Homo sapiens: one gene and its partner. The protein of the gene in region 2 interacts with the protein of the main gene of each other region in a pairwise test. Each region holds a gene or a part of one and is shown on either strand. Other genes may lie near its edges. The genes, in order: RALBP1 and ZNF707.

Evidence for each region.
Region 1: the proteins of ZNF707 (region 2) and RALBP1 interact in binary tests that used the Homo sapiens proteins (3 or more experiments, as listed by UniProt).

What each region holds. Positions count from the first base shown.
Region 1 is NC_000018.10:9,473,474-9,488,787, reverse strand, and holds the start of RALBP1 (ralA-binding protein 1), read right to left. Parts: upstream 13,276-15,314; 5' UTR 13,097-13,275; intron 13,094-13,096; exon of another isoform or gene 12,502-13,093; intron 10,524-12,501; exon of another isoform or gene 10,266-10,523; intron 1-10,265. UniProt on the Homo sapiens protein: Multifunctional protein that functions as a downstream effector of RALA and RALB. As a GTPase-activating protein/GAP can inactivate CDC42 and RAC1 by stimulating their GTPase activity.
Region 2 is NC_000008.11:143,683,027-143,698,340, forward strand, and holds ZNF707 (zinc finger protein 707), read left to right. Parts: upstream 1-1,452; 5' UTR 1,453-1,516; intron 1,517-3,890; exon of another isoform or gene 3,891-3,988; intron 3,989-4,354; exon of another isoform or gene 4,355-4,452; intron 4,453-4,967; exon of another isoform or gene 4,968-5,041; intron 5,042-5,635; exon of another isoform or gene 5,636-6,177; 5' UTR 6,178-6,275; intron 6,276-7,030; 5' UTR 7,031-7,082; coding exon 7,083-7,097; intron 7,098-7,872; exon of another isoform or gene 7,873-8,046; coding exon 8,047-8,173; exon of another isoform or gene 8,174-8,206; intron 8,207-8,570; exon of another isoform or gene 8,571-8,573; coding exon 8,574-8,687; intron 8,688-9,218; exon of another isoform or gene 9,219-9,267; coding exon of another isoform or gene 9,268-9,304; intron 9,305-10,644; coding exon 10,645-11,504; 3' UTR 11,505-12,359; downstream 12,360-15,314. UniProt on the Homo sapiens protein: May be involved in transcriptional regulation.

The DNA of each region.
Region 1 (15,314 bases), on a different chromosome or scaffold from region 2:
ATATAAAGAAACAGGCTCAGTGCCTGTTACACAATAGGTGTCAACAAATACTGATTCCCTTCCTGTACATATTACTTCCTCGTGACTGTTTACAATAGAGTATTTACATGTTCACACATACTACTTGCATGTATATAAAACATCTCTGGAAGAATATACAAGGAAATATTAAGTTTTTATCCCTTCAAAGAGATCTCAGCTGAGAAAAGGGTAAAGGGGGAAAGACAATTTAACCTTTATGTGCCATGGGTATTATCTTTTTCAAAATAAACTAAATTTTACATGTTTTTAACTAAAAAGACAATCATATTATTTATATCTCATCCAGCCGCCTATCCATCTGTAAAGAAACTAGGAAATATAGCGATGGAGTCAAAACGTCCAATTTCATCAAAAACTTACACATATGCAAAGAAACAAGAAGGAATGATCCATTAAAAAAAAAAAAAGCAATCACAGAAACTGTTCCAGGCCAGGCACGGTGGCTCACGCCTGTAATCCCAGTACTTTGGAAGGCCAAGATGGGAAAGAAAATTGCTTGAACCCGGGAGGCGGAGGTTGCAGTGAGCCAAGATTGCGCCACTGGATTCCAGCCTGGGCTACAGAGTGAGACTCTGCCTCACAAAAATAGAAAAAAGAAACTGTCCCTAAGGATGCCCAGACACTGACTAGACTGACTACATAAGAACTTTAAATCAGCTATTTTAAGTATGTTCTAAAGCTAAAGGAAACCATGTCTTAAAAACTGAAGGAAAGCAAGATAACTCTGTTTCACCAAAAAGAGAGTATTGATAAAGAGAATTTTTTAAAAAATCTAATAGAAATTATAGAATTGAAAAGTATAATAACTTAGATGAAAAGTTCACTAGAAGGGCTCAACAGCTTATTTGGGCAGGCAGAACAAAGAAACAGTGAACATGAAGATAGGTTAATTGAAATAGGTCAGTCTGAGGATCAGGAAAAAAAAAGAAAGAATACAGAATCCCTTAAAACAGAACATAAGAGATATACGGGAGGCTGAGGCAGGCAGATCACTTGAGCCCAGAAGTTCGAGACCAGCCTCAGCAACATGGCAAAATCCCATCTCTACAAAAAATACAAAAAAAGAAAAAAAAAAACAGCTGGGTGTGGTGGTGCACACCTGTGGTCCCAGCTACTCAGAAGGATGAAGTGGGAAGATCACTTAAGCCCATGAAGTGGAGGTTGCAGTGAGCTGAGATCACGCCACTGCACTCCAGCCTGGGCAACAGAGCGATGAGACTCTGTCTCAAAAAAAAAAAAGAAAAAGAAAAGATATTCCTAGATTAAGAAAAACTAAGAGAACTCACTGCTAGTAGACCTATCCTGTTAAAAAAAATACGCTAAAGGGAGTCCATCATGCTGCTTTGAAAAAACACTAACTAGACGATACTCAAATCCACATGAATAAAGAACACTGGTAAAGGTAATTACAGTCGGGCATGATGGCTCATGCCTATAATCCCAACAGTTTCAGAGGCCAAAGTGGATCACTTGAGCCCAGAAGGTCAAGGCTGCAGTGAGCCAGGATCATGCCACTGCACTCCAGTGTGGGCAAGACAGCAAGACCTTGTCGCAAAAAAAAAAAAAAAAAAAAGTATGTAGGTAAATATTAAAAAGAGTATAAATGTATTTTTGTTTGTATTTCTTCTTTCTCCTATCTGAGTTAAATAACTGCATAAAGCAATCACTGTAAATCAGTGTTGATGAGCATACAATGTATAAAGATGTAATTGTGACAATAACAGCATAAAGGGGGTAGGACTACATAGGAGTAAAGTTTTCTACACTATTAAAATTAAGTTGATATTAATCTGAACTAGATTGTTACAAATTAAGATGTTAATTGTAATCCCAGGTCAACTACTACGAAAATATATAACAAATGAAACATAAAGGAATTAAAATGGTACAATGAAAAGTATGTATTTAACACAAAAGGAGGCAGCAATGGAAGAATTGAGGAACAAAAAAGATGTATCAAAAACAAATAGCAATATGGCAGAAGTTCTTTCTTATCAGTAATATGTAAATAAATCAAACTCCTCAATTAAAAGATAGTTATTGGCAGACAGATTTAAAAAACAACAAGATGCAATCGTAGCCTGTCTACAGAGACTCACTTTAGATTCAAAGACAGAAATAAGCTGAAAGTAAAAAGATAGAAAAAGATATTCCAGGCTGGGCACAGTAGCTCACACCTGTAATCCCAGCACTTTGGGAGGCCAAGGTGGGTGGATTACAAGGTCAAGAGATGGAGACCATCCTGGCCAACATGGTGAAACCCTGTCTCTACTAAAAATACAAAAATTAGCCAGGCGTGGTGGCGCGAGCCTGTACTCCCAGCTATTCAGGAGACTGAGGCAGGAAAATTGCTTGCACCCGGGAGGCGGAGATTGCACTGAGCCAAGATCGTGCTACTACTGCACTCCAGCCTGGTGACAGAGCGAGACGAGGAAGGGAGGAAGGGAGGAAGGAAGGGAGGGAGGGAGGGAGGGAGGGAGGGAGGAAGGAAGGAAGGAAGGAAGGAAGGAAGGAAGGAAGGAAGGAAGGAAGGAAGAGAAAGAAAGAAAAAGAGATTTCATGCAAACAGTAACCAAAAGGGAACTAGAAAGTCTATGTTAGGCCGGGTGCGGTGGCTCATGTCTGTAATCCCAGCACTTTGGGAGACTGAGGCGGGTGGATCACCTGAGTTCAGGAGTTGGAGACCAGCCTGGCCAACACGGCAAAACTCTGTCTCTACTAAAAATACAAAAATCAGCCGGGCATGGTGGTACATGCCTGTAGTCCCAGCTACTACGGGGGCTGAAGCTGGAGGATCGCTTGAACCTGGGAGACAGAGGTTGCAGTGAGCCGAGATCGTGCCACTGCACTCCAGCCTGGGCAACAGAGCAAGACTCTGTCTCAAAAAAAATAAAAATAAAAGAAAGTCTATGCTAATACCAAACAATGAAGACTATCTCTTAAATATCATATAATGATAAATGGGTAAATCCATCAACAAGATACAACAATTGTAAACATACACTGCACATAACAACAGAGCCTCCAAAAGATACAAAACAAAAACTGACAGAAGTGAGAGGCGAAGAGGCAGTTCAATGATAAACGGAGACTCCCAATACTTCACTTTCAATAATGGATAGACTAGAGAAAAGATCAACAATGAAAAAGAAGACTTGAACAACACTATAAAGCAACTAGATCTATCAGACATCTATAGAACACCCCACCCAAAGACAATGTAATACGAATCCATCTCAAGTGCACATGGAACAGTCTCAGGACAGATCATATGTTAGGCAATAAAAGATGCCTCAATAAACTTTAAAAGACTAAAATCATACAAAGTATGTTCTCTGATCACAATGAAATGAAACTGAAAATCGATAACAGACAAAATGTTGAAAACTTCAAAAATATGTAGATAATTAAGCAACACACTTGACAAACACTCAACAAAGTACTCAACAAACTGGGAACATAAGGAACATCCTTAAACTGATACAGTGTATCAATGAAAAACCCACAGTTGCCAGGCATGGTGGCTCATGCCTATAATCCCAGCATTTTGAGAGGCTGAAGCAGAAGCTTGAGCCCAGGAGCTCCAGACCAGCCTGGGCAACATAGGGAGACCCTGTCTCTACAAAGCATACAAAAATTAGCCAGGCATAGTGGCTCATGCCTGTAGACCCAGCTACTCAGGAGGCTGAAGTGGGAGTATCACGTGAGCCTGGGAGGTCAAGGCTGCAGTGAGCCATGATTGTACCACTGCACTCCAGCCTGGGTGACAGAATGAGACCGTGTCTCAAAAAAAATAAGAAAAGAAAGAAAAACCCACAGTTAACATTATACTAAATGGTAAAAGACTGGAAGCTTTCCTCCTAAGATAAGGAACAAGACAGGGAAGTCTGTTATTGCCACTTTCATTTAGCATTGTATGGGAAGTTCTAGCCTGGGCAATTAGGAATGAAAAATAAATAAATAAAAGATACCCATATAGGAAAAGAAGAGGTAAAACTATCTCTGTTTACAGACAGCATGATCTTATATACAAAACTCAAAAGAATACACTAGAAAACTATGGGAACTAATAAGGAGTTCAGCAAAGTCACACGATATAAGGTGACAGAAAATAAGTTGTATATCTAAACACTAGGCAATTGTGAAAAACAATTGTGAAAAACAAATTGAAAAACAAATTTAAAAAACAATTTCATTTGCAACAGCACCTAAAAAAAAAATAGAAATAAATTTAACCAGGGAAGTGAAAGACTTGACACTGATAACTACAAATATTGTGCAAGAAATTAAAGACAAACTAAATAAGTGAAAAGACATCCTATTGTTAATGGATTGGAGGACTTAATATTTTTAAAACAGAAATACTACCCAAAATGTTTTACAAATTCAATGCAATCTCTATTAAAATTCCAATGGCCTTTTTTACAGAAATGGATCCTCAGTTTCATATGGAATTGCAAGGGACCCTGAAGAGCCAACAAATACTGGAAACAGCAAAGTCGAAGAATTCACACATCTCAATTTCAAAATGTACTACAAAGCCACAGTAATCAAAACAGCACATGGTACCTGGCATAAGGATAGCTATATCAACCATGAGAATCAAACAAAGAGTCCAGGGGAAAAAACCCAGACATTTGTGGTCAACTGATTTTTCAACAAGGATATCAGGACCACTCAATCAGGAAATAATGGTCTCTTCAACACATGAGGATGGGACAACTAGAGTACCACATGCAAAAAAGTGGACCCCCTCTGGCAGGGCGCAGTGGCTCACGCCTGTAATCCCAGCACTTTGGGAGGCCAAGGTGGGTGGATCACTTGAGGCCAGGAGTTTGAGGCCAGCCTGGCCAATGTGGTGAAACCCCATCTCTAGTAAAAATACAAAAATTGGCCGGGCGTGGTAGCGCTCGCCTGTAATCCCAGCTACTCGGGAGGCCAAAGCATGAGAATTGCTTGAACCTGGGAGGCAGAGATTGCAGTAACCTGAGATTGTGCCACTGCATTCCAGCCTGAGCGACAGAGTGAGACTCTGTCTCAAAAACAAAACAAAACAAAAAAACGTGGACCCCTATCTCACACCATATAAAAATGTGGACCAACAACTGAATATAAGAACTAAAACCACAGAACTCTTAGAAGAAAGTATGGAATAAATCTTCATTCCTTGGATTTGGCAATGTAGACATGACACCAAAAGCCTGTGTAACAAACAAACAAAAAAAAACAGATAAATTATACTGTAAAATTTAAACTTTTAATGCATCAAAAGTATATTATCAAGAAAGTGAAAAGACAACCCAGAAAACAGAAGTATTTGTAAATCATATATCTGATAAACATTTAGTAACCAAACATACAAAGAACTCTTTCAATAACCAACAATACAATTCAAAAATGGACAAAGGATTTCAGTAGATATTTCCACAAAGAGAATATACAAATGGCCAATGAGCACATGAAAAGATGTTCAACATCTTAGCCACCAGGGAAATGAAAATCTAACCCTCAACATGATACCACTTCACCCCAAGATAGCTAAAATTTAAAAAAGCAAATGGCAAGTATTGGCAAAGATGTAGAGAAATTGGAGAATTGGATTATAAAATGGTGCAGTCGCTTTGGGAAACAATTTGGCAGTTCCTCAAACTGTTCAACAAGAGTTACCACATGAGCTGTTTTCTAACAACACTTCTGACACCACATGTGGAAGTGTTTTTCCATACCAATACAGTTCTCCAACTTTCCAGACACCAACTGAGTGCCCTATAATTCAATTCTGACACTAACTGCCCAGAGTTTATGTCAGACTCCACAGGCTTAGTTCCACAAGACTACCCTCACTTCAGTTACCAGCCACAAGCTGCACATTGCCACCTGTACTTCTGACCAAATAGCTATAAATAGGGGTTCCCACAACCCCCTCCTCATGTTCAATAATTTGCAAGAATGGCTCACCGAAACTCAGGGAAACACTTTACTTATGCCTATCAGTTTATTATAAAGGATATAAATAAACCACCAAATCAAAAGGCACAAGGGTGAGGCCGAGATGGGTTCCAAGTATAGGAGTTTCTGTCCCATGAAGTTGAAGCAACACCTTCCCAGCATAAGGATGCATTCACCAACCCAGAATCTCTCTGAAAACCACTGTTTAGAAGATTTTATGGAGGTCCCATTTCACAGGCATGATTGATTACATCACTGGCCACTGATAACTGATCTCAATACCCAGTCCTCACCACCACCCCCTCACCCATCCAGGGGTGGGGCTGCAAGTTCCAACTCTCTAATCAACACAGTTGGTTCTTCTGGCAACCAGCTTCCATCCTGAAGTTGTCTAGGGGCCTACCAAGAATCACTTTATTAGCATAAATTCAGATGTGACTGAGAGACTTATTATGAATTCCAAAATATGCTCTATTACCTCTATTACTCAGGGAGTTCCAAGGATCTTTGAAGTTCTAGGCTAGGAACCAGACCAAGACCAAATATATATTTCTTATTGTATAACATCACACCCAGCAATTCTACTCCTAGGTATATACACAAGAAATGAAAACGTATGCCCGCACAAAAACTTGTACATGAATATTCACACCAGCATTATTCAGAATAGTCAAGAAGGAGAAACGACTTAGATGTTCAACTGATAAATGGATAAATGAAATGTGGTATATCCAGATAAGAGAGTACTGTTTTGCAATAAAAAATATGAAGTGCTAATATATCCTACAATATGGATGAACCCTGAAAACATTAAGTGAGGGAAAGCAGTTGCAAAAGATGATATATATGGTTTCATTTATATGAAATATCCAGAATATCTGAAATATCAAGAGATACAGAAGTAGATTAATGAGGGCAGGGGAAATAGTGAGTGACTACTGCTAATGGGGAGGTTTTTTTGGGGGAGTAATGAAAATGTTCTAAAATTGACTGTGGTGATGGCTGTACAACTCTGTATATACAGACTGTCCCCAACATACAATGTTTCAACTTGGGATTTTTCAACTTTACATGGTATCCATAAAATCATTCTGTTTTTCACTTTCAGTATGCAATAAATTACATGAGATATTCCACACTTTATTATAAAATAAACTTTGTGTTAGAGGATTTTGTAGGCTAATGTAAGTGTTCTGAGCATGTTTACAGTAGGCGAGGCTAAGCTATGATGTTAGGTGCATTAAATGCATTTTCCACTTACAATATTTTCGAATTGCTATAGGTTTATCAGGATGTAACTGTGTCGTAAGTAGAGAAAAGTAGAGAAGCATCTGTACTAAAAACCAATGAGACTGCGCGTGGTGGCTCATTGAGCCCAGCACTTTGGGAAGCCGAGAGAGGTGGATCACTTGAGCCCAGGAGTTTGAGACCAGCCTGGGCAATATGGCAAAACCCCGTCTCCACAAAAAAAATACAAAAAATTAGCCAGGCATAGTGGCACACACCCGTAGTCTCAGCTACTCAGGAGGCTGAAGTCGGAGGATCATCTATCTGAGCCTGGGAAGTCAAGCTGCAATAAGCTGTGGCTGCACCACTGCACTCCAGCATGGGTGACAGAGTGTGACTCTGTCTCAAAAAAAAAAAAAAAAAATTAAGTCACACAGACCAATGAATAACTACATGCTACATACCAATGAATTGTATAATTTAAAGGAGTGAATTTTATGGATACGTGAATTATATTTCAATAAAGCTGTTTTAAAAAAGAAAAGCAGGTTCAAGTCTTTGCCATGTTAAAAATCTGTTAACCCTTTATCACCCTCTGCTACCACCTCTTTCTATTCTCCCCTTCATGGCTAAAATTGATTTATTTATTATAATCTACATATGCTTTTCCACTCTCTAACCTCAACTCCTCAACTCAATGAAACCTACCTCGTCCCCCAACCATTCTATCAAAACTGTTCTCACACAGTTATCAAATTGAATAACCTCCTCAATACCAAATCAATAGACTCTTAATAACTTCTTTCGCTCAACTTTTCAAAGCATTTAAAGTATGGCTTTCCTTTTGTTTAGGCCAGGGTCCCACTCTGTCACCCATGCTGCAATGCAGTGGCACAATCACAGCTCACTGCAGCCGCAACCTCCCAGGATCAAGCGATCATCCCACCTCAGCCTCCTGAGTAGCTGGGACCACAGGTGTGCACCACCACAGCCAGCTAATTGCTTTTTTTTTGCAGAGACACCAGTCTCCCTATGTTTCCCAGGCTGGTCTCAAACTCTTTGGCTCAAGCAATCCTCCCACCTCAGCTTCCCAAAGTGCTGGGAGGACAGGTGTGAGCCACTGTGCCTGAGGCTTTCCTTTTTTAAAAAAAAAAATTAATTTCTATTTTTTCTTGAGAGTTGATTGTGAAGTATAACTTCCTTTAAAAATGATCCCAGCCCAATGCAGTGGCTCACACCTGTAATCCTAGCACTTGAGAGGCCAAGGCAGGCAGATCGCTTGAGCCCAGGAGTTCAAGACCAGCCTGGGCAACATGGCAAAACCCCATCCCTACCAAAAATACAAAAATTAGCCAGGTGTGGTGGTATGTGTCTGCAGTCCCAGCTACTTGAGTGGCTGAGGTAGGAGGATGGCTTGAGCCCAGGAGGCGGAGGTTGTAGTGAGCTGTGATGGTGCCAGATCCCACTTTGGCTTCTATGACATTTTCTCATGATTTCTCTACATCTCCAAACACTTAGGAATTTCCTTTCCCAGCTCTTCTTCTATCTGGCTTTAAATGTTCTCCACAGCCTATTTCCAGAACTATTTTATGTTAACAAACTCTTCTTATTTGGTGTTATCTAAATCAAAGAATTCAGATACCACTCATAATATAGCCTGTTATACTGTACTCCAAATCCACATTCACAGTTCCATAGCAGATGATTCCACCTGGATGTTTCACAGATAACTTCCACTCAATATGTTCTGAAGCTAAAATACTGTTTCTCCTCAAATGTGCTTCTCTTCCTGAATTCCCCATCTCAGTATATTTTACCATTGTCTCTTCAATCACCCAAGTTAAAATCCAAGTCATCTTATTCTATTATTTTTCCCTCACTCCCCATATCCAATTGTTGCTGAATCCTATGAATTCTACTTTCTAAATATTTCTATTACCCTCCTCCTCCATAACCCCTCTAACATTGCCTTAGTTTGGACCCTTATTTCTCACTTCGATTAGTGCAAAAACCTCCTAAACAGTCTTTCTACATCCATTCTTACCTTCTCTCCATCCCTTCTGAAATCCTTACTCTACAATTCCAGAATGATCTTTCTAAAATAAAAATCTTGGCCGGACATGGTGGCTTACACGTGTAATCCCAGCACTTTAGGAGGCCGAGGAGGGTGGACTGCCTGAGCTCAAAGTTTAAGACCAGCCTGGGCAACACAGCAAAACTCCATCTCTACAAAAAAAAAAATACCAAAAAATTAGCCAGGTGTGGTGGCGTTCACCTGTGGTCCCAGCTACTCGTGAGGCTGAGGTGGGAGGATCGCTGGAGCCTGGGAGGTCGAGGCTGCAGTGAGCCATGACGGAGTGCGGTGAGTGCCACTTCATTTCAGCCTGGGTGACACAGTGAGACCTTATCTCAAAAAAGTAAAAAAAAAATAAAAAGAAAAATCTTATCATGTCTCTCTGTTCATTAAAATACATAAACCCTATTGTTATCTACAGGAAAAAATGGTAAGGTCCTTGGAATGGCACGCAATACTTTTGAGGATACCTGCAACCTCATCTTCTGCTACTTATCACCACAACTAATGCTACAGCTACAGAAAACAACTTCCCATTCTCTTCCATATTCTGTGCTGACTGCACCCCTGGCCCGCGCGTGCCTTTCCGCCTGCCGCGCCCCAGGACACCCCAGCTCTGGGCGCCACCAGGGAGCTGCTCGCCCTGACCAAGGCCGGCGGCAAACCCTTCTGCGCCTGAGGCAGGCTGGCCTCTAGCTCGGTAGGAAACCCGCGCTCAGGCGGACAGCGCCGACTCTTTTTACTGAGTTTCCAGAGGAAGACTAGCCCAGCTACCGCGAAGCTGCCAATCCACCGGAGAGGGGGCTTCTGAACCCGGACTCCTGGGAACGTCGACAAGCACGGCACTACTACACCGAGGCCTCCACCGCCTGGGCCTGAGCACGGCCGGGCCATTCCCAAACTCGGGACGCAGGAGAGGATCTCGGAGAAGAAGAGGCCACCCTGAAGCACACAGTTTACGTCAAAAGTTTACATGGAGAAGGCGGTTCCGTTCTGAAGCGCGGTCTGCTGTCCTTTTGGGCGCGAGGCATGTGGTGTTCGCTGTGAAGCCTCCTGGGCCTGTTGGTCCTCCGATTTCATCCTCGGGACATAATGCTTACCAACAGTACTTGCACTGAGTTGACACTCGTGCACTCTTGACTCCAGATGTTTTTCAAAATGTATGTTCACACCAATAATTGCCTACTTCAGAGGCTAATAAGACAAAACCAATAAAACTGAGTGATGGTGTCTGTATTGGGAAAAAAAAAAGTGTTCCATGTTCTTTCTCACCTACGTTTCTGCCCACCTTTCCCTCTAAAAGTTCCTTCCCCATCCCTGCCCTAGCCCCCCAATTTCTGCATTAGTCATGACTAAGCCTTCTTTAAGCTTAAGGACATAAAATATACAGTACCTAATACAGTGCCTGACCTATAGCAGAGGGTTAAAAATGGGCTGAGCTGGCTTAGGTCTCTTCTTTGTCCTCTCAATGACTCCTATTTGCTTATAAAATAAAATTGTAATTATTCTGATGGTCTGCAAGATCCATAATTTGGTCTCTGCCTATCTCCCCAGTTTCAGGTCTTGCCACCACCCTGTATTATACTTGCTATTTTTGCAGATGCTACTCTCTAATTTTAGACTCCCATGCTTTTTCTCACACTGCTCCTTCTACCTAAATGCCCATTCTTTCTATGCCTGTACACTCCTGATTTTCATCACCTTCTACATAGTTTTTCCTTACAGTTTCCCTCTTCTTCAGCTCTTTTCTTCACTTTAAGAAACTGACCACTATCTCCTTTGTACATCCACTGTACCCGCATATGTTCTTCAATCAAAACAATCTTGTACTTGTTGACAGTTAAAGTAAGAGATAAGGTTCAACTACCCTGAAGGCAGGAACACTGCCTTCTGTATCTTTAAGTCCTCTTCACCTGGTCACAGTACTTTCTACATAGTAATTCCTGTATTCTAAATAATCTGCATTTTTCCTTGTACCCTCTTATACAAACTAACATAAGTTTCTATCAGGGATCTTTCAAAACAGAAACAATATTCTTTTGGGTTACATGCTGGGCCCGATCTCTTCTTGCCAAGCAAACAACTATGCAAATATAACTGTACAAATTAAAGTTATTATGCACTTTCTGATACCACTTTCCTATTCTAAATTAGGGGAGAAATAGTCTGGATAAGATCCATAATTAGAAACAATATCCTGAAGAGAAAGCAAACTAAGTTGTATTACATTGTTTCGAGATACCTTGTTTAAAGAGTCACTTCTCAAAAGCTACTACTGTTGGCAGGGCGCGGTGGCACACGCCTGTAATCCCAGCGCTTTGGGAGGCCTAGGCGGGCAGATCACCTGAGGTCGGGAGTTCAAGACCAGCCTGACCAACATGGAGAAAATGTCTCTACTAAAAATATAAAATTAGCCGGGCGTGATGGCGCATGCCTGTAATCCCCTCAGGAGGCTGAGGCAGCAGAATCGTTTGAACCCAGGAGGCAGAGGCTGTGGTGAGCTGAGATCATGCCATTGCACTCCAACCTGGGCAACAAGAGCGAAACTCTGTCTCAAAAAATAAAAAACTAAAAAAAAAAAAAAAAAGCTACTGTTAACTAACCTACCCCACTTGGATCTACCAGATACTTTGAATGAGAGGTGGAAACCACTCTACTGACCTCCTTCCTACCCCTACTACCGCCACTCCAGCTTACAGTAATTATTTTCACAAAGACAGAAAGGAGTTATCAAATGACCACAATAACTCTAAAAACAGAAAGTGAGGTGATCTTTCTTATTCACAGTCCCACTTATTCATTTAGAAATGCTGAGCACCAAAACAAAACCTTATCACAAGTTCAGTATTTCGTTAATAACTGCCAAGTATAATGGAATACTCCCCAAAGTACTGCAGCATTAGAACATGACCACTCCACTAAATTAAAAATTCAGCGAAAGCTTTTCTAACAAGGCTGGATGGAGCACTAACTCAACGGCCAAACGGCTGCACTTCCTGTATATGCACGTTCAAAACACCTCGAATTAACATGCTAGGGACCTTGAAGAATTGTACTAGGCCTTGCTCAAGAGGAAGGCTTTGTAATACTGAATCCCAAAACTTGAAACAGCAGAATTACTTCAGGGAAGACGGAGGTGTTAAATATTCTGTAAAACCTGTTTCACTCTCACAACGATCAGTTTTAAAAAAAAGAGGGAGAACACTGACCTCATTAAGAGCATTCTGACAACACACATAGTTGAACATGAGTTGTGAAAAGAATTTTCAACTTCAGATCTGTCTGTCCATTCCCACTGAAACCTGAAGGAAGGATCGCAGCACCCAAAGGCGCCCACTGCTCAGTGCCAGCGGTGGGCGACACCAGGAGCCTGTCCTGGTCCCCTGGGTAAGCCCTGGAGCCTGGCCACTATGCCGGGCACGATCCACCAACCGTGAGGGCTGGGTCCCCTAGCCTCTGTCCAGGCGCCCCCCAAGAGCTTCCCCGAGGCCTGGGGACTCCTAACTCTCCACCCCCGGCCCCCGAGAGCACCACAAACGAGGACGCCACGAAGGGAGGCCCGTCGGCCAGTGGGAGGGACGCACGGCCAAGGGGGGCGAAAACTGGGGCGAAGCTTTCCGGGGAGGAACCCACGCCAGGGGCAGCCACGCCCCCCACCCCCAACTTCAAACCCGAGCGCTGCGAGCACCGAGCCCCACACGCTGCCTGACAGACGCGGGCGCGAGGCCGGCGCGGGAGAGGGTTCCTCGGGCACTCCAGGGGTATCGCCGCGACCCTAGCACGCGACCGCTCCCTGCGACTGACCTGTGCCTGCCGCCGCGCGACCGTCCGCCCCGCCGCAGCCTCCGCCTCCTCGCGCTCACGCTGCCGCCGCAGCCACCGGAGCCGCCTCCTGCGCTGCGCCCCAGGCCGGCCTCGGGCGCCCCATTCCCACCCCGCCCAGCCTCTGCCTGTTTACAATGATTGGGACGGAACGGGACGAGGCGGTCCAGCGCGCACGCGCATTCCCTCCTCCCGCCGCAGCCGGCTTCCCGGATCCTCCTCTCCGCTCAGACGGCTGAAGCCGTCAAGGGCAGGCGACCTGGGCTCTCGCGCGGGGCGCGCTGGGAGGCGTAGTTCCCAAGGCCCCGGCGTCCAGCCAGCCCGAAGGCCTCTCGCCAAGGAAGCAAACTACAACACCCAGGAGGCACCGCGCCCCCTTCGTCCCCAGGCTCGCTGAGGAGACTGAAGAAGAGCGCGAGAGAACGCGCCGAGGGCCAGTGCTCTGCAGGCGCCTGCGCAGTCGGTGGCCTTGCGGGTTTCGGGGACGGACGGCTTACCCCGGTGTGGTGCTGGCGAAGGTGGCTCGCGGGCATCTCCTGCAACGGCCTTGAGGATGGAAAGGGCTTTCCTCTCCACGCTCTGGCCAGCCTGCGCCTCAGCTCCCGAAGTTGAGAGCTTTCCTTGCGCCAGCGTGCTTTAGTCGTTCCAACCAGTTAAACCAGACTGGGGGCCGCCCGGCTGGCCGCTGGGTGGGGCGGCTGCCCCGCCTTCGACTGGGTGTGGGATTGGAGGAAAGAGCGCCGTGGGCCTGTAGGGATAGGCGGGAATAAACCTCTGTCGGGAACATCCACGGAATTCCTGAAGCGGGTGTGGGCTTCTGCAGGGCTTCAGCGCGCCCCCGGCTCAGCAGTTACCGAGCAGCCCCCGAGGAAAGCTGCCCAGTCCGTGTTTGGCTGGCAGTAGAGATAACTGAATTTCTTCGAGAAGCCTTTCACCCAGGCTTGTTGAGTTGCTCTGCTAATGCGTAGCGAAGGCTGGAAACGGCTTCAGCAGTCTTCGTGTTTTCTGAAATGTGGCAGTTTATTAGGGGAGAGGAGGGACTTGGAATAGACGACCCTACCTGTCACTCGCATTCCTACGTGCAGCACTCTGTGGCACTTCGTTGCCCGTTTAGATTGGCCGCTGCTATCCATCTTGCTCTCTGCTCCCACATCAGCTTTCCTCAAAGCGGGCGGTAAATTTGTCCCTAGTACTCTGCGCTCCCTACTCAGTAAAGTTCAACCCCTGGGGCCTTAGATTCATTCAGGGGCCTCCCACGAGTGGATACGGGATGGTCTGAGGTAGCCATTGGTCTTTGACTTTCGGAAAAGCCTTCTCATGGCTCCTCTCGCAGTAGAACAGTCTTCTCTGACCACTGGGTTGGGCAGGTGAGCATGGCAGTGACAATTCTCTGCCTGTGACAGCACTGATTCGGCCAAGGGGCAGGCACTGATCCACGCTGGGCCTTATGGAGGCCTTGCCTGAAGCTGCTATGTGGATGCAGGAGGGGAGCAGAGGGAGTTTTCTACTGAGGCAATTGCTGATGGACGTGTTTCTTGCAACATCGAGTGGCCTAGCCAAAGGTGAGGGTGTGAAAGAGAAGAAAGGAGAAATGGAAAGGGAGAAAGAGCTGGCAGAATGTAGACCGTGGTTTCATTTGGAGGGCATGGTTTGTGGAGCTCTTTAAGTGCTGTGAGCATGTGAGCCTAAGTGGGTGAGCCCACTCATTCATTGATTTATTATTTGGAGCCAATATGTGTGGATATTGAATGTATTTGTTGGCTGCCACTTGAGCATTTATTCCTTCCATTTAAGCCAGGCAACATAACCATTCCCTCTAGCAGCAGAGATGGTCACAAGCCCAGTCAGAAACAATGAACCCACAAAGACTGGGGCTGAGGCTTCCAGTAAACTGTAGCTTCCTTGCTCCTCTAGCATGGTGTAAGTATATGATGCCTGGAAATGTGGCAACCGTTTTCCTCCTATAAGGGGAAACCCTAGAGGGATGGGAGTTTAGAGGGACAGCAACAAGTAGAGCCTGGGGTTGAAGTCAGTACTGTCAAATGAATGCGGGAAAGATGGAGAAGAACCTTGTGTTTGGTGGCATGATTTGAGCTGCAGTATCAAACCTCACCTGTTTGATTCTATGGACTATCCTATAGACTATTCGGGATTGTGAGCAAGGCCATCTTACAGACTATCCAGAATTGTGAACCACAAA
Region 2 (15,314 bases):
GAATAAGTTAAGTGATTACCTAAGACCTGGAATCTATAGAAAGGCGTGTCTAGGTTTGAACAGTTGGCCACCCTTGTGTGGGTGGAGTATTACATAGGTGCCTAGGCAAGAGACTGAAGGCACAAACTGTTTCAGTATAATAAAGAAAATAGTTAGAATAAGAATAGTCATAATACAAATTAGATATAGAGATGACCATGAACAATTATCAATCATTATTATAAACATTATTAATCATTAGCTTTTACCATTACTCTTTGTTGCATTACTAATATAACCTAGGAATAACCGGCGGATATAGGGTCGGGTGCTGAAGGGACATGGTGAGAAGTGACCTAGAAGGCAAGAGGTGAGCCTTCTGTCACTCCCACATCAGGGCTGCTTGAGGGCTCCTTGGTCAAGCCCTAACGCCAGTGTCTGGGAAGTCACCCGTTGCTTAGTAGACTGCGAAAGGGAGTCTCCTTTCCTTGGAGGAGTCAGGGAACACTCTGCTCCACCAGCTTCTTGTGGGAGGTTGGATATTACCCAGGCCTGGCCGCAGTCATCCGGAGGCCTAAACCCCTCCCTGTGGTGCTTCAATGTTCACGCTCCTTGTCCACTTTCGTGTTCCTCCTGTACTCCTGGTTCCTCTTTGAAGTTCGTAGTCGATAGCGGTAGAAGAAATAGTGAAAGTCTTAAAGTCTTTGATTAATGCTAACTTATGCTGCCTTCTCTCTCTGCTTCCGCTACCTAAGAGGGAAGGGCCCCCTGTCCTGTAATCATGTGACTTGCTTCACCTTGTCAATCACTTAGAAGATTCACCCTCCTTACCCTGGCCCCTTGTCTTGTATGCAATAAATATCAGCGCGCCCAGCCGTTTGGGGCCACTACCGGTCTCTGCGTCTTGATGGTAGTGGTCGCCCGGGCCCAGCTGTTTTCTCTTTATCTCTTTGTCTTGTGTCTTTATTTATTACAATCTCTCATCTCCGCACACGGGGACAACACCCGCTTAGCCCCGCAGGGCTGGACCCTACACCCTTGATTGGCTGGAACTGGGTGACTGGCAGGAGAGCAAGTGACAGTCTGTTCACACCTCCAGTTAGGTTACAGTTCACTTTGTAGGATAAACCTTTAGGCCGACTTTAGGTTATGAGGGCCGGGATCGGTGGTTCACGCCTGTAACCCCAGCACTTTGGGAGGCCAAGTCAGGCGGATCACCTGAGGTCAGGAGTTCAAAACCAGCCTGACCAACATGATGAAACCCCCGTCTCTACTAAAATTACAAAAAAATCAGCCGGGCGTCGTGGCGCTTGGCTGTGACCGGGGCGGGGCCTGCCGGCTGCGGCGGAACCACAAGCGGTGCGGGGCGAGGCGGGCGGCCTGGACGGCCTGGAAGGCCAGCGCGCACCACCGAGACGTGGGCTCCTAGAGGGGCCGGAAGCTTTCGGATAACAACTTCCGCTCGGGAAGTTTGTAAAAGTCTGGGCTACCGGCGCGGCGTAGTGGATGCAGCATCCTAGTGGAGGACGCCCCTGTGGTGAGTGCGCCCGTGTCCCCCGCCGCCCCTCCGTCCCTGGGTCGTGGGCTGTCAAACCTTCTAATTCTGCGGCCGCCCCAGGGCTGTGAGACCCAGCGTCGCGGCTGCTGGGACAGACCGGGGAGGCTGCCCGTGCCCTCGGCTATTCGGGGGCTGTTCTTCAGCTTCTTCCGGCTCGGCCTCCTCTTCTCTCCTCGCTCCTTACACTTGCAGGTTTGTCAGGACCCGGTTGCGTATCCTCTTGAAGCTGGTTTCTTCCTGGCCGACCCCGTCCGCGATCGTGACCTTAGTTATCCCTCATAGACACTTTCCACACCTGTGTCTCCAGCCCTATCGCTCCGATGAGACCCGAGCGCTTAGACTTGATTCATAACACCCAAAGCTCCCCGGCCCCAGGCTGAGCTCCTGCAACCTCCACACCCCACCCTCTGGTCCTCCCAGGCATTCCACCGCGAAGGGGAGGAGGCAGAAACCCGAGATTCGCTTCTTCTCCTTTCCTGCCCACGCCCAGCCACACAGTCACTGGTGCGTTAGCTCCATAACTGAACCATTTGCCTCCTTGCCATTCCCACCCTGTAAGTCCCAATCCTGGCCGTCTTCCTCTCTCACCTGAACGCCTCCCTGTCTTCTCCCCACCCCCATCCTGTTTTGCTGCTTTCTCATTTGTTCATCACAGAGGATCTTTTATAAAATGTAGCTTAGCCAGGCAAGGTGGCTCCCGCCTGTAATCTCAGCTCTTGGGAGGCCGAGGCAGGTGGATCACTTGAGTCCAGGAGTTCTAGACCAGCTTGGTCAGCATGTTGAAACCTTGTCTCTACAAAAAATACAAAAATTAGCCGGGTGTGGTGGTGCACGCCTGTAATCCCAGTTACTCTGGGGAGGCTGAGGCAAGAGAATCGTTTGAACCCAAGAGGCAGAGGTTGCAGTGAGCAGAGATCGCGCCACTGCACTCCAGCCTGGGCGACAGAGCGAGACATCATCTTATTAAAAAAAAAAAAAAAAAAAAGGTAGCTTAGGCCGGATGCTGTGGCTGACGCCTGTAACCCCAGCACTTGGGGAGGCTGAGGCCAGAGGATCTCTTGAGGCCAGGAGTTTGAGATCAGTCTTGGCAACATAGTGAGACCCCGTTTCTGCAAAAAACTTAAAACAATTGCAGGGCATGTTGGCACATGCGCTTTTGGTCCCAGCTACTGGGGAGACTGAGGTGGGAGGATCACTTGAGCCCAGGAGGTCGAGGCTGCAGTGAGCTGTGATTGCACTACTGCATTCCAGCCTGGGTGACAGAGCAAGGACCTGCCTCAGAGAAAAAAAAATCCTGTGTTAATTTGCCTAGGGGAAAAAAAGTAGCTATGACAATATCCTTCTGTTCTCCCGTATTAAACTTTGTTGCATTACACATGAAACCACGGCTCAGGAGGCCTTGAGGAATCTGGCTTTAGCCCCTTTCCTGGCCTATCTCACGGTTCTCCCTGACTCTGCTTTCCAGGCTGGGAAGCCCAGTCCAGGTTGTGCAAACACAGCTGTTGAGCTGAGGGGAGAGGGTGTTTTTTTTTTGTTTTTGTTTTTGTTTTTTTTGAGATCGTCTCGCTCTGTCTCCCAGGCTGAAGTGCAGTGGCATAATCTCGGCTCACTGCAACCTCCGCCTCCCGGGTTCAAGCAGTTCTCCTGCTTCAGCCTCCCAAGTAGCCTGGCTAATTTTTTGCATTTGTAGTAGAGATGGGGTTTCACCATGTTGGCCAGGCTGGTCTCGAACTTCTGACCTCAGGTGATCCACCTGCCTCGGCCTCCCCAAGTGCTGGGATTACAGGCGTGAACCACCGCGAATGGCCGGGAGCTGTTATTTTTATCACTGTGGTCATTGCTACTTGCTAGAGGAACTCAGCAAGGTGTTCTAATTGGAAAACACCACCCATGACCCATGTGCTCAGTGTGCCTTTTCATGTTTTTATAGACCGTTGTATAACTTTGGTTGAAGTGTCTGTTCTAATATTTTGCCCAGTTTAAATTTTATTTCTCTTTTTTATTGATTTGTAGGAGTTACAATTCTTTATATAAGTCCTTTGTCAGATACATGTATTGGGAATATTTTCTCTTAGTCTGTGGCTTACCTTTGTGTCTCTTTTTAGAAAAAAAAATTTAAACAATAGAGACAGAGGTCTCCCTATGTTGCCCAGGCTGGTCTCAAACTCCTGGCCTCAAGCAATCCCCCTGCCTTAGCCTCCCAAAGTGCTGGGATTACAGGCGTGAGCCACTGCACCCCGTCTCCTTTTTTTTTTTTCTTAACTGCCTTGGTAAACAAAAATTTTTAATTCTGATAAATCCAATTTGTGATTTTTTTTTTTTTTTGAGACGGAGCTTTGCTTTTGTTGCCCAGGCTGGAGTGCAATGGCGCGATATCGGCTCGCCGCAACTTCTGCCTCCTGGGTTCAAGTGAATCTCCTGCCCCAGCCTCCTGAGCAGCTGGGATGACAGGCAAGTGCCACCACGCCTGGCTAATTTTGTATTTTTAGTAGAGATGGGGTTTCTCCATGTTGGCCAGGCTGGTCTCAAACTCCGTACCTCAGGTGATCCGCCCACCTCGGCCTCCCAAAGTGCTGGGATTACAGGCGTGAGCCACTGCATCCGGCCTGAATTTGTAATTTTTTAAAAGTGCTTTTAGGGATCCATGAAAGAAATGTTTGTCTACCCCAATGTTGTGAAGATGGTCTCTCTGTGTCACCCAGGCTGGAGTGCAGTGGCACAATCTTGGCTCACTACAACCTCTACCTCCAGTTTGTGTTTTTTGTTTGTTTGTTTTTGTTTTTGTTTTTAAGACGGAGTTTTGCTCTTGTTCCCCAGGCCGGACTGCAGGGGTGCGATCTTGGCTCACAGCAACTTCCACCTCCCGGGTTCAAGCGATTCTCCTGCCTCAGCTTCCCAAGTAGCTGGGATGACAGGTGCCTGCCACCATGCCTGGCTAATTTTTGTATTTTTAGTAGAGACAGGGTTTTGCCATATTGGCCAGACTGGTCTCAAACTCCCCACCTCAGGTGATCCACCCGCCTCAGCCTCCCAAAGTGCTGGGATTCTAGGCATGAGCCACCACGCCCGACCTACTTCTTTCTTTGTAATCTTATGGCTTTATGTGTTTTTTCTACCTCCTTGCACTGACTCAGGCCTCCAATAAGGTGACAGAGAGAAGCAGTGGGCAGACAGCCCTGCTTTTTCCTGGTCTCAGAGGGAAAGAGCTCCGTAGTGGCCCATGAAGCAGGATGTTGGTTGCAGGTCTGCCGGGTTGAAGAAGTTCTCTTCTGTTCCTTGTTTGCTGAGAGTTTTTGTTGGGATTAGGTGTTGAATTTTAACAAATGCCTTTTCTGCAGCTATTGAGATAATAGCTGTTATATGGTTTTCTCCTTTATTCTGTTAATTTGGTTAGTTATATCATTTTCTTTTTTTTTTTTTTTTTTTTGAGATGGAGTCTCACTCTGTTGCCCAGGCTGGAGTACAGTGGCGTGATCTCGGCTCACTGCAAGCTCTGCCTCCCGGGTTCGTGCCATTCTCCTGCCTCAACTTCCCGAGTAGCTGGGACTGCAGGCTCGTGCCACCACGCCCGGCTAATTTTTTGTTTTTTAGTAGAGATGGGGTTTCACCGTGTTAGCCAGGATGGAGTTATGTCATTTTCAAATGACAGCAAATGTTGGGGATTAACATTGTGATTAAAGTTGATGCTATGCTGTTGAAAGAGTGAAAAAAAAATATCAAGTTGAAAAGCATATTCATGAAAACATGTAGCAGTTAATGTAACCACCTGTGAGTGTCAGAAGGAGAAAGGGAATGTCTGTGTACCTGCTGTGCTGGAGGTGGGAGGGACGAGGGGTCAGGGGTGAACGCCGAGGGAGCCGCCCCATGCAGTGAGTGTTGAGTGCAGGTGGTGGAGGGAGCCTCCTGGGCACCAACTGCAGTTAATGGGGATCAAACCAGCTGTGTACTCTTAGGGTCCATGTCACTTGGTCATGACAGAGAATTCTTTTTATAAACTGCTGGATTTGGCTTCCTAATATTTTTTGAGAATTTGTGTTTATGAGAGTTTGGTAGGTAATTTTTTTGTAATATCTTTTTTTTTTTTTTTTTTTTTTTCAGACAGCGTCTCAGTCTAACATCCAGGCTGGAGTGCACTGGCATGATCTCAGCTCACTGCAACCTCCGCCTCCCATATTCAAGCAGTCCCCCCACCTCAGCCTCCTGAGTAGCTGGGACTGCATATGTGCACTGCCACGCCCCGCTAATTATTGTATTGTTTATAGAGACAGGCTGGGCAACTGCTGGGCTCGAACAGTCCTCCTGCCTCAGCCTCCTAGGGTGTTAGGATTACAGGCGTGAGCCACTGTGCTTGGCCCCTTGTAATATCTCTGTCAGGTTTTCGGTTTGGGTTTTGCTGGCCTCATTAAGACAGACTGGATAGCGTCTGCTCTTCCTCTGTTCACTAAATAGCTTCTAAGATCAGTACTGTGCTTCCGTAGGCTTTGGTGGAGTTTACCAGGGAATCCAGCTGGGTGTGGTATTTTCTGTGTGGGAAGGGTTCCAGTTACATTTTCAATTGCCTTATCAGATGGAAGGCTTCCCTTTCTTTTGTCAGTTTCATGATACTGTGTTTTTCATCGAGTTTGTCTGTTTCATCTCAGTTGCTGAACCTGTTTGCATGAGTTGCTCCTGACGGCCCTTTAGGATACTTCCATGTCTGTAGGGTCTAGAGTGACATCTCCTCCCCTCCCCTGACGAGGTAACCAGGCATGGGCTATCTTCCTCCAGCTGGTTCTGTCTCTTCTCAGGGGTGCCTGTGGGGCTGGCCTCTTCTGCATCTTGGGGCTCTGAGCTTTACTCACGAAGGAGGCAGGACCCACTGTGGCAGGAGGGCAGTGGGATGCCAGGGTGGTTCTCTACAGACCTGGGGGTAGAAGCTGGATCTCAGCGGGCTGGGGCCCTAAGGTTTAGGGGATCTTGTGGCTTGATCTGGAGACTCAGTGAACATTATTGGGGTTTCTCGGGGCTGCACCAGGTTTTCACTTGGGGGAAGGCTGCGAGGTGGCCTCCTTGTAGCGTACCCGAGAGCATCCTCCTGGCACAGTGCTGTGGGAACGGGCTGCCCGCCTGTCTCCTGAGGAGGAGCCTCCGCTGCCTCAGTTGCGGTTAGACTCTCCAGTCATGTGTTTGCAGCTAAGCTGTTGGCTTTCAGCCAGCAATGGCTGGCCTGTCCTCCTCTGGTGACAGGCCTGGCTTGCTGTCTGGTATTTCAGAGTTCTTGTTTGTGGAGGTGGCACACTGTACCCAGCTGTCCCTTAAAGATATGTTGGCCCCTCACCACTGCCAAGTTTCCCCACACCTGGTGGCTGTCAGTAGTTACAGAGCAGACCCTGTGTGTGCATCACTCATTTTTCCTGAATTCCCCGTGATTTGCTGAGTGGGGGGGCTCCTGGGGTCAGGTGCGGGGGGCATTCCCAGGCCGGCTATACCCGCTTACATTTCTTGTCTCCCCAGATCTGCCCTCCTTGGCACTGTGCTTCCCCAGAGGGGTGGCCTCGCTGTTCCCATGGACATGGCCCAGGTGAGCCCTGCTGCTGCCGAGCGCAGCCTCCCTTCTGCCCTGCTGGCTGCCTGAGACCCCAGCACACACGCGGGGAGGGTCTGTGGCAGTGGCTTCCCAGGCACTGTGCCCGTGTCTGCCTTTCTGCCTTCTCTCTTAAGGGGTGGGGAAAGAAAAAGAAAATTGGGGCCAGGCGCAATGCCTCACGCCTGTAATCCTAGCACTTTGGGAGGCTGAGGCAGGTGGATCTCGAGGTCAGGAGATCAAGACCATCCTGGCTAACACGGTGAAACCCCATCTCTACTAAAAATACAAAAAATTAGCTGGGCACGCACCTGTAGGCCCAGCTACTCGGGAGGCTGAGGCAGGAGAATTGCTTGAACCTGGGAGGCGGAGGTTGCAGTGAGCCAAGATCGTGCCACCACTCCAGCCTGGTGACAGAGCAAGACTCCGTCTCAAAAAAGAAAAAAAAAAAGAAAAGAAAATTGGATTCATTGACACTAGGAGAGTAGTGGCTGTTGTAGGAAAGTAGACTAGATTCTCTTAGTCCACTAGAGCTACCGTAACCAAACATGACACAGTGGGTGGTTTACACACATGCACTTCCTCTGTTCCAAAGGCTGACGTCCAAGATCAGATGCTGCAGATCTGGTTTCTGGTGGGGGCCACTATTGTGCTGTGTTCACGCGTGTGCGGGGAGGGAGCCGGGGGGCTCTCTGGAGTCTCCTGTGAGGACCAGGTCCATGGGTCAGGGCCCCTCCCTTCTGACCTCACTTAACCTTAATCTCTTCCACAGAGGCCCATCTCCAGACACAGCCACTCGGGGCTCTGGGCTTCAGTGAATGGATTTAGGGGACACAAACAATCAGTCCACCGCAGGGCCACTCCCATTCCCCCTTCCCACCCAGACCTGTGGGCTGAGCCTTCTTTTTCTTGGGAATGGCCTCTTCGGGAGCTGTGTGTGTTGCAGGAGCCAGTGACCTTCAGGGACGTGGCCATCTACTTCTCAAGGGAGGAGTGGGCGTGTCTGGAACCCAGCCAGAGGGCCCTCTACCGGGACGTGATGCTGGACAACTTCAGCAGTGTGGCTGCTCTGGGTGAGCACGGGCTGAGCGCAGCGTGAGCACAGGGTGAGTGCTGGGAGAGCTCTGCCGCTGCCTCTGGGCCCAGCTCGTCCAGGACAGTAGTGGGGCCTCCCAGCTGAGGGGGCTCAGGAGCTAGAAGTTATTGGCTTATGTAGACAGAGGGGCCCACTCAGCGTTTCTCTCGGGCTCCCTGGAGGCAGCCTCATCTTCCTTCCTCTGACCTTGCCAGGGCCTTCCGTGGGCCTTGGTGTCCAGGCCCCTCCCTTCCTGTCATCTCTGCTTTGGGGTGGCTTCTCCAGGGCCTCCCGAGGGCTGGCCTGGCGTCTTAGGCTGATGCACAACTGCTCTGAGCCTCGACCCTCACTTTGTCCTCAGTACAAGTAAAACAGAAACTTTTCTCTCCTTTGAGAAGGATTTTGCAGCCCCAGACCAGACCTCGTCTCTCGCCTGGAACAGTGGGAGGAGCCGTGGGTTGAAGACCGGGAGAGACCTGAGTTCCAGGCAGTGCAGAGGGGACCCCGGCCAGGTGAGTGCTGGGCTGTCTGGGCTCGGCGGGCCCCGTCCCTGTGGCCCACAGCTCCTGGGTAGTGCTCAGCACGCTGCAGTGACCAAGGGTGTGTCCTTCCCATGGGAGAGCAGACACACAGCTGCTCTCTAAATTAGACAGGCATTAGAGACGTAGGGGCAGCCACGCTCCTGCCCTGATGGACACTGGCCGGGGGTGGGGCTCGAAAGGCATAGTGCTGCAGGATGACATACAGCTGCAGCTCGGAGGGGCCTGAGGCTGGAGTGACACTTGAAGCCTGCACCTAGCCACCCAGGTGCTGTCCGGCGGAGGCCATTGGTGTGGGTGTCTGACCTCCCTGTGATGGCCATGTGGGGTCCCAGGCCTGGTACTGACTGCACGTGAGGGTCTCCAGGTATGTGGCTCTGGGTAGGAGTTTGCTCCACGTCCTTGTTTGCAAAACTGGGACAGTGGCCATGCTTCCCTCCATTAGGTGAGGGTTGCTCTTGGGGCAGTTGTCAGCAGGGTTTTGCTTTTTACTTACATTTTCAGAGTGGGATGGAGCAGCTATGTGAACACGAGCCCTGGGAGGTCCCCGGGTATGTGGAGTCCCCGACTGTGGAGTGTCAGGTTCCTAGGTGTGTGGAGCCCCCGACTGTGGAGTGTCAGGTCCCTGGGTGTGTGGAGCCCCTGACTCTGGAGTGTCAGGTCCCCGGGTGTGTGGAGCCCCCGGCTGGGGAGGTGTCGGATCCCCGGGTGTGTGGAGCCCCCGGCTGGGGAGGTGTCGGATCCCCGGGTGTGTGGAGCCCCCGGCTGGGGAGGTGTCGGATCCCCGGGTGTGTGGAGCCCCCGGCTGGGGAGGTGTTGCATCCCCGGGTGTGTGGAGCCCCCGGCTGGGGAGGTGTCGGATCCCCGGGTGTGTGGAGCCCCCGGCTGGGGAGGTGTCGGATCCCCGGGTGTGTGGAGCCCCCGGCTGGGGAGGTGTCGCATCCCCGGGTGTGTGGAGCCCCCGGCTGGGGAGGTGTCGGATCCCCGGGTGTGTGGAGCCCCCGGCTGGGGAGGTGTCGCATCCCCGGGTGTGTGGAGCCCCCGGCTGGGGAGGTGTCGCATCCCCGGGTGTGTGGAGCCCCCGGCTGGGGAGGTGTCGCATCCCCGGGTGTGTGGAGCCCCCGGCTGGGGAGGTGTCGCATCCCCGGGTGTGTGGAGCCCCCGGCTGAAGGGAGCCATGGCTCTGAGGCTGAGTGGTTGAGAATCAGGTGGAGCTACCCGTCTTCTAGACGACATCCTAGCACCACCTCCACCCGCATGAGTGGGGCCTGCTGGCGTGGACAGGGTGAAAGGACATTCTCTTGGCCCAGTTGCTTCTGTTGGTTGGCAGGCATGTGTCGGCTCTCCCTCACGTCAGCAGTGCCGGGTGGCCTGCGTACCACCGGGGCTGGGGAAGCATCTGAGCTCATCTTGGCTTCCGCTGTTGATACCTGTGGCTCATCTGTGTTTCTTTGAACGAGTTTTCCTGATCACTCGTAACCATGTGGAATGAGCTGAGTCAATGGAAGCCAGTCCACGCACACAGCAGGAGGGTCCTCTGGGCTTTTTTTTTTTTTTTGAGACGGAGTCTCGCTCTGTCGCCCAGGCTGGACTGCGGACTGCAGTGGCGCAATCTCGGCTCACTGCAAGCTCCGCTTCCCGGGTTCACGCCATTCTCCTGCCTCAGCCTCCCGAGTAGCTGGGACCACAGGCGCCCGCCACTGCGCCCGGCTAATTTTTTGTATTTTTTTTTTTTTAGTAGAGACGGGGTTTCACCTTGTTAGCCAGGATGGTCTCGATCTCCTGACCTCATGATCCACCCGCCTCGGCCTCCCAAAGTGCTGGGATTACAGGCGTGAGCCACCGCGCCCGGCCTCCTCTGGGCTTTGCTGGAGGCACTGCCTGGCTGTGGGCCACTGGCTCTGTGTAAGGGTGTCTGTTCCTTCCACAGGGGCAAGGAAGTCTGCAGACCCCAAGAGACCTTGTGATCATCCAGCTTGGGCTCACAAGAAAACCCACGTGCGGCGAGAAAGAGCCAGGGAAGGAAGCAGCTTTAGGAAGGGCTTCAGGCTGGACACGGATGACGGGCAGCTTCCCAGAGCTGCTCCAGAAAGGACAGACGCCAAGCCCACGGCTTTCCCGTGTCAGGTGCTCACGCAGCGTTGTGGGCGGCGGCCGGGCCGCAGAGAGCGCCGGAAGCAGCGCGCAGTAGAGCTGTCATTCATCTGCGGCACGTGCGGGAAGGCGCTCAGCTGCCACAGCCGGCTGCTCGCTCACCAGACGGTGCACACGGGAACCAAGGCCTTCGAGTGCCCCGAGTGCGGCCAGACCTTCCGGTGGGCTTCAAACCTGCAGCGCCACCAGAAGAACCACACGCGCGAGAAGCCCTTCTGCTGCGAGGCCTGCGGGCAGGCGTTCAGCCTGAAGGACCGCCTGGCTCAGCACCGCAAGGTCCACACCGAGCACAGGCCCTACTCGTGTGGCGACTGTGGGAAAGCCTTCAAGCAGAAGTCCAACCTTCTCAGACACCAGCTGGTGCACACCGGGGAGCGGCCGTTCTACTGCGCGGACTGCGGCAAAGCCTTCCGGACCAAGGAGAACCTCAGCCACCACCAGAGGGTCCACAGCGGGGAGAAGCCCTACACCTGTGCCGAGTGCGGCAAGTCCTTCCGGTGGCCCAAGGGCTTCAGCATCCACCGGAGGCTGCACCTGACGAAGAGGTTCTACGAGTGCGGCCACTGTGGGAAAGGCTTCCGTCACCTGGGGTTCTTCACGCGGCATCAGAGGACTCACAGGCACGGGGAGGTGTAGGGGCGCCCGAAGAGTGGGGTGCTGCGCCTCTGCGGGAGTACTGGGTCCTGAGGGAGAGCTGCAGTGAGAAGTTGCTCTTCAGCCTGGAAAATCAACCTGAATTCAGAGAAGCCTTCTTAGTCCTCAGAGCTCCCCAGTCCCCCGAGAAGTTTACTGGGAAAACTGCCAGGTGGGAGAAGCAGAGCCATGGGTACGCCGGAGATGGCGGGGGCTCTGGAGATGGCGGGGGCTGCGCCCCGGCGCCGGGCATCCTGGGGATGTGCTGAGAGTGTGCGCGACCCCGGAGCCACGTGCCAGGCCGGGCTCAGAGGCGGAGAAGCCTGCCTGGTGCCCACAGCCGTCTGGCTCAGGGACTCCACCCTGGCCCCGAGTCGCCGTCTGCTGGGCCTTTCCTTCCTGGCTCTGCACCCCATGCTGGCTGCCCGGTCTGGCTTCCCTTCTTGTCTCTGTCTTGGGCGAGGCAGCTGTGAGCATTGCACAGAGGCAAAGACCCTCCTGCAGCCTCTGCGCTGGGCCGTAGAAACAAGAGCCTTTGTAATACTGAACCTCATTCAAGGATTAGGAGTGGTGGTTAGGTCAGGGCCACCCCCAGTGCTGCAGGAACGGCCTCCACCCAGCTCTGTTGGTCAGAGCCTGGGTCATGCACCTGGAGTTGGGAGATCAAGTTGGGTCTCAGGGCAGTGAGGTGGCCATATCCACCACATCGCATTTCGTGGGGGAAGAGGTGACCTCTTTGTTTTAAACTTAAGGTGTCTGCTTATCCAGCCAGAAATAAAAATCTGCCAGTGGTGTTCCCAAGGGAAGACCCCCGTGGGAATGGGTCGGGACACTGCCGTGTTTCAGGTTAGCCAATTATTTTTGCTTTTGCCTGTTTTTCTTTAAGAATTGCAGCCAGGCCAGGCGTGGTGGCTCACGCCTGAAATCCCAGCTACTCGGGAGGCTGAGGCAGGAGAATCGTTTGAATCCGGGAGGTGGAGGTTGTGGTGAGCCAAGGTTGCGCCATTGCACTCCAGCCTGGGCAGTAAGAGTGAAACTCCGTCTCAAAAAAAAAATTCCAGCCAACAGATGCATATGTAATGTTGGAATCAGAAACGAGTTTACAAGAAATAGGGGGATGAGGAGAAGGTTGAACACACCGAGAGGAAGCCCTGAGCCAGATCCGGCTGGAGATGCCACCAGACGGCGACGTTTCTGTGGGAAGACGGGCACGCAGAAAGGCCGAGGGGGCTGTGTGTGACCCTGGTAGGAGCAAACCGAGTGCGAAGTCACTTTTGAGACAATCATGGAAATGTGGGCACGGGCCGTGAGTCGGGTGGGTAGGCCGTGAGTCGGGTGGATGGACTGAGTCGGGTGGGTGGGCCGTGAGTCGGGTGGATGGACTGAGTCGGGTGGGTGGGCCGTGAGTCGGGTGGATGGACTGAGTCGGGTGGGTGGGCCGTGAGTCGGGTGGATGGACTGAGTCGGGTGGGTGGGCCGTGAGTCGGGTGGATGGACTGAGTCGGGTGGGTGGGCCGTGAGTCGGGTGGATGGACTGAGTCGGGTGGGTGGGCCGTGAGTCGGGTGGATGGACTGAGTCGGGTGGGTGGGCCGTGAGTCGGGTGGATGGACTGAGTCGTGTGGGTGGCCGTGAGTCGGGTGGGTGGGCTGTGAGTCGGGTGGGTGGCCGTGAGTTGCGTGGTGGGCCGTGAGTTGCGTGGGTGGGCCGTGAGTCGGGTGGGTGGGCCGTGAGTCGGGTGGGGGTGCGGAATTGGCTGCTAGCGGTGATGGTGACACAGGGTTACGGAGGAATCCTCACTCAGATGCATTTGGACGTCTTTGTGGGGAAATGACGTGGCGCCTGGGATGTACTTTACGATTCTAATAAAGAGGAGAAAGACACAACAGTATTGGCTGAATGTTGACAGCTGTTGAAGCCGGGAGGTTGGTGTGCTTAAAAGTTCCCCAAATCTTTTATTTGCAGCATGAGTATGAGTTTCTTCGTGCTCACGGAAGATTGTAGAGAGCAGCTGTCGGTCATGGAGTCACAGGGCTGCCTTACCAGGACACCACCGGCAGCCCCACAGACAACACAGGTTTATTCTCTCCAGCTCTGCAGGCTGGAAGTCCGAGGTAGAGGTGCCAACAGGGTCCGTTTCCGGCGAGCGCCTCCTGGTTCAGAGGCATCCTCATGTCAGGAGGGGCTTTGGTGTCACCTTTTCCTTGTGAGGGCCCGGATCCCATGACCCCTATCACCCCATCGAAGCCAAATCACCTCCCAGAGACCTCCTCATACCATCACGTCGGGCCTAGGGCTTCCACATGGGAATTTCAGAGTGACCATTCAGCCCGTAGCAGAAGCTCCTCTGGGTCTGTCCTGGCCCACAGACCCTGTGTAGGAAAAGCACTTGCCCCTGCGGGGCAGGCCCTGGCAGAGCCCGGTGAGGCAGTGAGGGCCCTGCAGGATAAGTGGAAATCTCCCCAGGGGGGATATGGGGGTGCCTTTCTCTTACAGAGTCCAGGCTGGTAAAAGCGCATGTGTGTTTCGTGTCTGGTTTGTCCCCTGCCCAGCGGGCGCCGTTGGAAGGGCCTTCAGGTGCTTGAGCACAGGTGGGGACGGAGCAGCTGGTGTCTCGGCAGTAGATGCGGCGGATCATAAGGACTTGGGTTTTGAGCGCCCTGCAGGAAGCCACTGGCCGCGTCCAGGGTCACCTGTGCCTGGTCGTTAGTCCCTCACAATGCTGTCACTTTGTGACGCTCTTGTGCAGGATTAAATGTGAACAGCAGAGACGTGGGTGATGCGCTGCCTCGTCAGATGATGGTCAGTTGTCCAAGCGGGCTGCCTTGCTCTTGGTGGCCTCATCATCCAGGGCTCACACACTGGATGGTTGGGCCACAGTCGCGGTACCCCCCGGGCTGCAGGCTTTCCACCCTGCTTAGCAGGGCTCCAGGGCTCCGGGTAGAGCAGGGGGTCCCTCCCTTGGCACTTCCCCAGGGAGGAGCACGACCGTGCTCAGCTGCGGTCAGGCTGCTGCTCTTAGTTGTCTTTCCTTCTAACACTCAGGCTTCCCTTCCTGCCTCCTGGGTCGCTGAAGAAGGTCAGGTCCACAGAAAAGGCCTGGGGAGAGAATGGTGGTGAGGAGCCCATGGGGGTGTGAGGGGCCGGGAGGCTCTGCATCTTGCCCTGTTGGCCTCCTCACCACCCAGGCGGGGGTGGGGTGACAGAAGGGGCTCACAGCAGGTGTCCCGTAAGGAGCATCTTCCTTCCTGGGGCCAGCAGCCGTCACTCCCTGTGAGCCTGTAGAGCCGAGTTTTCTCTGCATTTATCTTGGGCAGAGAATGCATGAAGCTACTTCGCGGCCAGAATGGGTGCACAGCAGGGTCCGTTGACAGCCATGCCTGTGACCTAGCCTTCCACCCCTCTGTCTCCAGGGGACACTTGCCTGGCCTTTGTGTTAGCGCTCAGCACACATGTGTCCAGTGTAAAGTCCACCAAGATTAGCAGGGCATGGTAGCTGCCGCCTGTAATCCCAGCTTCTCAGGAGTCTGAGGCAGGAGAATTGCTTGAACCTGGGAGGCGGAGGTTGTAGTGAGCCAAGATCGTGCCACTGCACTCCAGCCTGGGCGACAGAGTGAGACTCCATCTCAAAAAAAAAAAAGTCCGTCGAGAGAGCAGGTGGCGGATGCAGCTGAGAGCTCCAGGAATGGGAGGGCCACGTGGTAGCCACTGGCAGCCTTGACTGAAAGATGAAGGAGTCCATGGTGCTAGGAGGAGGAGTTGCATCCCAGCAGGCTCAGCTCCTGGAGCTGCCTCTCTGCACTCTGAAGGGAGGC